Linked DNA regions of Homo sapiens. The protein of the gene in region 2 purifies or fractionates together with the protein of the main gene of each other region. This does not show direct contact. Each region holds a gene or a part of one and is shown on either strand. Other genes may lie near its edges.

The links. The genes of interacting proteins can lie anywhere in the genome.
Region 1: the proteins of ZNF267 (region 2) and DDI2 purify together in Homo sapiens (co-immunoprecipitation; one large-scale study listed by IntAct). This does not show direct contact.

What each region holds. Positions count from the first base shown.
Region 1 is NC_000001.11:15,623,958-15,627,457, forward strand, and holds part of DDI2 (protein DDI1 homolog 2), read left to right. Parts: intron 1-2,711; coding exon 2,712-2,841; intron 2,842-3,500. UniProt on the Homo sapiens protein: Aspartic protease that mediates the cleavage of NFE2L1/NRF1 at 'Leu-104', thereby promoting release of NFE2L1/NRF1 from the endoplasmic reticulum membrane.
Region 2 is NC_000016.10:31,887,307-31,890,806, forward strand, and holds part of ZNF267 (zinc finger protein 267), read left to right. Parts: intron 1-2,900; exon of another isoform or gene 2,901-2,944; intron 2,945-3,500. UniProt on the Homo sapiens protein: May be involved in transcriptional regulation.

The DNA of each region.
Region 1 (3,500 bases), on a different chromosome or scaffold from region 2:
GGAGGCTGAAGCAGGAGAACCTGGGAGGCGGAGCTTACAGTGAGCCGAGATCCCGCCACTGCACCCCAGCCTGGGCGAGAGCGAGACTCCGTCTCAAAATAAATAAATAAATAAATACCGTTAAAATGTGCCTCTGCTCCCAGGAGACTGTTCATGTATCTCTAAATATACTGATAGTTGAATTTCTGAAACTGGAAAATTAAAGAGTAGGTTGTTGACAGTGGCTTCACAGTGTTGATGCTATGCTGTAAGAGCCTGCCTACCTGCCATTTCTCTTGACATACCTCTTTTTTCTTGTTGCACACCTCAACCTGTGACGCTCATCACTTCTGGTTTATGTGTTTTTTCCAAGCAGTCTCACAAGTTATAATATGACTCTCAGTTGTTTTGCTGAAATTCTGTGTTGATGGTGATGTACTTTTACTGTGAAATTTGTGTTTAAATGAGGGTGTGTGAATGGGATGATGGGAGTGACAGTTGCAGTCTGTTGAAATGTGGTTCTTTTTTTGTTTGTTTTTGTTTTTTAAGAGACAGGGTCTTACTCTGTTGCCCCAGGCTGGAGTGCAGTGGTGCAACCGCAGCTCACTACAGCCTGGACCTCCTGGGCTCAAGCAATCCTCCTGCCTCAGACTCCTAAGTAGCTGAGACTACAGTCACATGCTACCATGGCTGGCTATTTAAAATTTTTTTTTTTTAGATATGCGGTCTCACTATGTTGCCCAGGCTGGTCTCAAACTCCAGGGCTTAACCCATTTGTGCTTAGCCTTCCAATGGAACGCTAAGCTTGTGGGAGTTATATCCTACTACTCAAGGTCATTGCCAAGGTATGATTTTTTCACAAAAGAAAATTTGCAACCTCTGGCCTAAATGGGTTAAGTGATGCTCACACCTCAGCCTCCCCAAGTGCTAGGATTATAGGCATGAGCCATCATACCAGATCTGAAATGTGTTTTAACTCAGCGAGTTGAGCATTAAGGACTTAATAGTATTTTTTTTCAAGTCATGCATAAAACTTGTATAATTGGGCCTACAAATTTGCTCATATTCAGAAGAATTTGATTTTGGTAGGAACTCATTTTCCTGTTCTGTTCCTCATGTCTATAAATTCTGAGAGCAGATATGGCATAATCACTTTTTTTCCAGTTTAAATGCTGTGTTTTCAGTTTTTATTTCAGGTAACCTTACTATGAAAGCTGTAAGGAAACATAGAATGATAATGTTAGCAGAGAGAACTGGAAGGGACAGCTGTAATGATGATCTAGCCCACCTGCTTGCTTGACACATGGGAAGGGTGAGGTCTGGACCTGCTGAGTGTCATGCCCCTCGCAGGGAGTTACTGGCAAGGATAGAACTCATGTTCCTCAGTTCGCATGTGGCCTGGTGAAAAATCATTAGGAGGAAAACCTTTCAAAGCCTGAGTTTGTTCTGAATGCCTTTCTGGAGTATGTAATAATGCAGGGCAGATTTTATGTTTTTTCATGATAAAATTATAGTGTACCTTTGTTCTTTCTATCTGCAACACATTATTTCATCTATTTGTGCTGTCAGGTTTTTTTCAGTTTGATTACACATCATAAAATATTTTTATTAGTAGTACATTCCTAATTCTTTTTTCCACTTGTATTTAGTTGTTATTTTCTTAGTTTCACTTTATTTTCCAGTCTCCCCCCTCCCACCACCCCACCAAGATGGAATCTTGCTTGCCCAGGCTAGGGTGCAGTGGTGCGATCTCAGCCCTGCAACCTTTGCCTCCCGGGTTTAAGCAATTCTCCTGCCACAGCCTCTGGAGTAGCTGGGATTACAGGCACGTGCCACGACACTGGGCTAATTTTTGTATTTTTAGTAGAGACGGAGTTTCACCATGTTGGCCAGGCTGGTCTCGAACCCCTGACCTCGTGATCCACCCGCCTTGGCCTCCCAAAGTGCTGGAATTACAGGCGTGAGCCAGCGTGCCCGGCCCAGAGTGATAAAACTTTGGGGGTGGTAGAAGAGAAGGAAGATTGCAGTGCAGGAAGGATGATATTTGGGACCCTTTTGCCAGTGTTCAAGATTATTTCAAAGTGCACACTTTATTTAATAGTACTGTAGTTAGTTAGCATACCCAGAATAAATCATTCCCTTTTCCTCCCTGCTAAAAATTAAATCTAAAATTATATCCATTTCCATAAATTCATTCATTCTTTAGTTCAACAAATATTTGAGCATCAGTTATATAACAGGCCCTGTTCTAAGCATTTATGATCTCGTGAATGAAACAAAGTCTTTGTCCTCAAGTAGTTTACATTTAATGGGGCAGAAGGACAATAAGTAAATATATATTGTGTTAGTTGAGAGTACATTTTAAATAACATAGTAGGGAAGAACTCTAAAGAGTAATGTTTGATCAGAGACGTAAAAGGAAAAAAATGAGTGGAAAAAGAACATTCCTCAGGTAGAGAAAACAAGAGAAACAGCCCTGAAGGGGAAGTTGATCCCTGTTGTTTGAGGAACAGCAGTCATAGTGAAAGGCGAAGTCAGGAGAGCCAGGGACCACATTGTTTGGTCCTGCTAGGTGACGGGAAGGACTGTGGGTTTTGTTCTGGATGTGGTGGGAATCCACTGGAGGGTTTGAAAGGAGGGTGACATCTGATTCAGGGGAAAACTGGTCCTTCTGCCTTGCGCTGTGTTACTTCTCAGTGCTTTATACTGTTGTATATCTTTTCTTGTTGTAGATCGTCTATGCGGAAAGACCTCTCACAGACAACCACAGATCATTGGCTTCTTATGGCTTGAAAGATGGGGACGTTGTGATTTTACGACAGAAGGAGAATGCAGACCCTCGACCTCCAGTGCAGTTCCCAAGTAAGACATCTGGTGGTTGAGCATCCCCCAGCAGAACCATCAGCAGGTAGCAGAGCATAGCACCTCAGAGTTTTGGATTCGCTTTGGATTCAGACTACAGAATACAGATCCTGACTCTGCCTTTTCCCTGCCGTGTAACCTTGAACAAGTATTTTAATGTCTCTAAATTGGTTTCCTCTTCTATAAGTTAGGTGCCATAATTAACCCCAACTCCTAAAGCTGACGTGAGGCTAATGCATGTAAAATCTTAGCACACAGCAAGCCCTCAATAAATGTTAGCTTCTGTTATCAGTGATAATTATACAATAATCTTTATCCTTGGGAAGGACTTGAAAGAATACATAAGCCTATGATTTTGCTACTTTGTGTCTGTCCTTCAGTGGCCAGCCTTTCTGGAGCATTTTATAGCCAGCCAGGCACTTGGAGCTGCATTTCACATGATCTCATAACTTGGTTGTGGGGGGATTTACATACTAATTTGCATAATAATTTATAATTATGAAGCTCAGATTTTAAATGGTGTCTTTAAAGTTACATAGCTATTAAGTGAGGGCACAGGAATTAAAATTTGATGCTTTTTCCATTATGCTGAACTTGATAAACATTAAGCAGCTTGACCACCAAGTTGTGGTTCTTTCCTACCAGCTGTGTTAATCACA
Region 2 (3,500 bases):
AAACTCTTATCAGATCTATTTTCTCCCAGTCCCTGGGTCGCTTTTTCATGTTCTGTGTTTGCTGTGCATACACTTTTTTGTTTCATTTAATGCTACTTGTTTTTATTTTTTGCTTTTTGTTGCTTGTGATTTTTTGATGTGATAGCCAGAAAAATTATTGCCAAGGCCAGTGTCAAAGAGATTTTTCCTTATGCTTTGTTCTAGAAGTTATACAGTTTCTGGTTTTGCATTTAAGTGTTAATTCTTTTGAGTTAATTTTTGTACATAGTATAAGTAAATTTTATTCTTTTGCAGATGACTACTTTCTTTCAGCATTATTTGTTGAAGAGACTATACTTCCCCTTTGTGTATCTTGGTGCCCTTGTCAAAGTAATAGTTGACTGTATGCACATGGGTTTCTTTCTGGTTTTTGTATTCTATTCCATTGGTCTATGTGTCTGTTTTTACGTCAGTACCATACTCTTGATTAGTATAGCTGTGTAATAGTTTGAAATGAAGAAGTGTGATGCCTCTAGCTTTATTCTTCTTTTTCAAGATTGCATGGGCTATTTGGAGTTATTTGTGATTCCATTGAAGTTTTATAATTTTTTCTATTTCTGTGAAAAATGCCATTAAAATGTCAATACAGATTTCATTGGATCTGTGAATCATTTTGTGAAGTATGGACATTTTAGCAATATTTTTTCCAATCCATGAAGAAGGGATATTTTTCCATTTGTGTCTTTTTCAATTACTTTCATCAGTGTTTTATAGATTTTACTGGACAGATCTTTCACTTCTTTTGTTAAATGAAGTTATAAAATTTAAAAAAAATTTTTGATACTATTATAAATCAGATTTTTTTGTAACTTTTTTCTCAGTTTATTGTTAGTATATGGAAATGCTACTAATTTTTGTATATTTTTGTGGCCTCAACTTTACTGAATGGATATATTAGCTCTATTTTTTGTTTGTTTGGTATAGTCTTTATGGTTTTCTGTATCTTCAAATCACTTCATCTGTAAACAGTGAGAATTTTACTTCTTTATTCCTGATTTGAATGCCTTTTTGTTTCTTTTTCTTACCTAATTGTTCTGGCTTGATTTCTCACTACTATGTTGAATAGAAGTGTTGAGATTGGGCACCTCTGTCTTGTTTCTGATACTAGAGGAAACTTTCAGCATTTCACTGTTTACTCTGTTGAGATGGATACTTTTGTATGTATGTTGTTTGGAGTTTTTATTATGAAAATGTATTTACTTCTGTTATAGGCTTTTAATAAATTTTTTGAGAGGATTATATGATTTTCATCTTTTTGTTATTGTGGTATATCATTTAAATTGTGTATGTTAAAACATTCTTGCATCTCAGGGATAAATCCTACTTGATAATGATGTCTGATCCTTTTAATGTGTTTTTGAATTTGGTATCTAGTATTTTGTTGAGAATTTTTGCTTGTATCTTTATAAGGAATATTGTTTTGTTACTTTTTTGTAGTGTCCTTATCTGGCTTCAGTATGAGATGTTGGTGGTCTCATAAAATGAGTTTGAAAGTGCTTTTTTCTTTCAGTTTTTTGGAAGAGTTTGAAAAGTGTTGACATTGCTTTTTTAAATGCTTGATACAGTTTACCCATGAAGTCATTTGGTCATGGGATTTTTTTTAAATTGGAAGATTTCTGAGTATTTCTGTCTTCTTTCTCATTATTAGTCTTTTGGGTATTTCTGTTTCTTCACAGTGTGGTGTTCTTTCTAAGAATCAATTTCTTCTAAGTTATCTTTTTTTGTTATGTAATTGTTCATAATAGTTTCTTATTTTTTTTCTTTCTGTGATATCAGCTGGAATGACTGCTTTTTCATTAATAGCTTTTTGAGTCCTCTCTCTTTTTTTTTCCCTTGGATAATCTAGGAAAAGTTTGTTCATTTTGTTTTTTTTTAATGACTCAGTTTTTTGATATTTTTTATTTTTCTAGTCTCTCTCTCTCTTTGCTCTAATTTTTATTATTTCCATAATTATGCCAACACTGGGATTATTTTGTTCTTCTTGATCAAGCTCCTTGAGGATTACAGTTAGATTGCTTATTTGAGATCTTTGTTTTCCTTATTGTAGAACTTTATCATTTTATACTTCTGTCTTAGAACTGCTTTTGTTACATCTCAGAAGTTTTGGTTTCTTGTGTTTCCAATTTCATTTGTATCAAGACAATTTTTTATTTCCCTTTTGATTTCATGGTTGTTCAGAAGCATGTTGTTTAATGTCAACACTGTATTAGTCTATTCTATAAAGAAAAGAGATTTAATTGGTCTACAGTTCTGCAGTCTGTACAGAAGCATGGCACCAGCATCTGCTTGGCTTCTGGCGAGGGCCTCAGTAAGTTTGCAATCAGGGGAATTGGTAAAGGTAGAACAGGCAGTCACATGGCAAGAGCAGGAGCACCAGACTAAGTTGGGAGGTGCTACACACTTTTAAACAACCAGATCTCATAACATCTCACTATCAAGGACAGCACCAAAGAATTCTTGAGGGATCTGCCCCTATTATTCAGACACCCCATATTAGGTTCCACCTTCAAGAATGGGGATTACTTTTCAACATGAGTTTTGTGGTGGGAGACTAAACATCCACACTGTATCACACACATTTGTGAGCTTTCTAGTTTTCCTCCTGCTGTTGATTTTCTAGTTTTACACCATTATGATAAAAAACTTGATATAATTTTAATCCTAAATTTAAAAAGACTTGTTTTCTATTTTTGGTTTAACATATGATCTATCCTGGAGAATATTCCATGTATTCTTGAGAAGAATGTGTATTCTCATACTGTTTGATAAAATATTGTCTATTTAGTTTATGGTGTTATACAGGTGAACTCTTTTTTTTTATTAGTTTTCTCTCTAAATATTCCATGCTTTGTTGTAAATAGGACATTGAAGTTCCCTGTTATTGCATTTCGTTTTCTCACCACAGGTATGTTAATGTTTGCTTTATATATTTGGGTGCTCCAGTGTTGGGTGCATACATAGTTTTAGTTTCTATATCCTCTTAACAAATTAACTTCTTTATCATCATGTAGTGAACTCCTTTCCTCTTGTGACAGATTTTTGCATGGAAGTCTGTTTTGTCTAATATAACCAACAACCACTCCTGATTTTTGGTTGTTGTTTGCATGCACTGTGGTTTCTATTCTTTAAGTTTATGTTTGTCCTTAAATCAAAAGTGAGTCTCTTGTAAGCAGCATACTGTTAGTTTAAAAAAATTCATTTAGCCACTCTGTGTTTATTCTAGTCTGTTTTGTTTTCTATAATAGAATACCACAGATTGGCTAATTTATAAACAGGGGTAGTTTATTTGGCTCATGATTCCAGGAGCTTGGAAGGCAAAGAAAACGACATTGTTATCTGGTGAAGGCCTTTTTGCTGCATAGTAACATGGCCAAAGGCCTGAGGGAGAAGAGAGCTCCCTTTTATAACAGACTCACTTTTGTGATAACTAACACACTCCCATAAGGACATTAATTCATGAG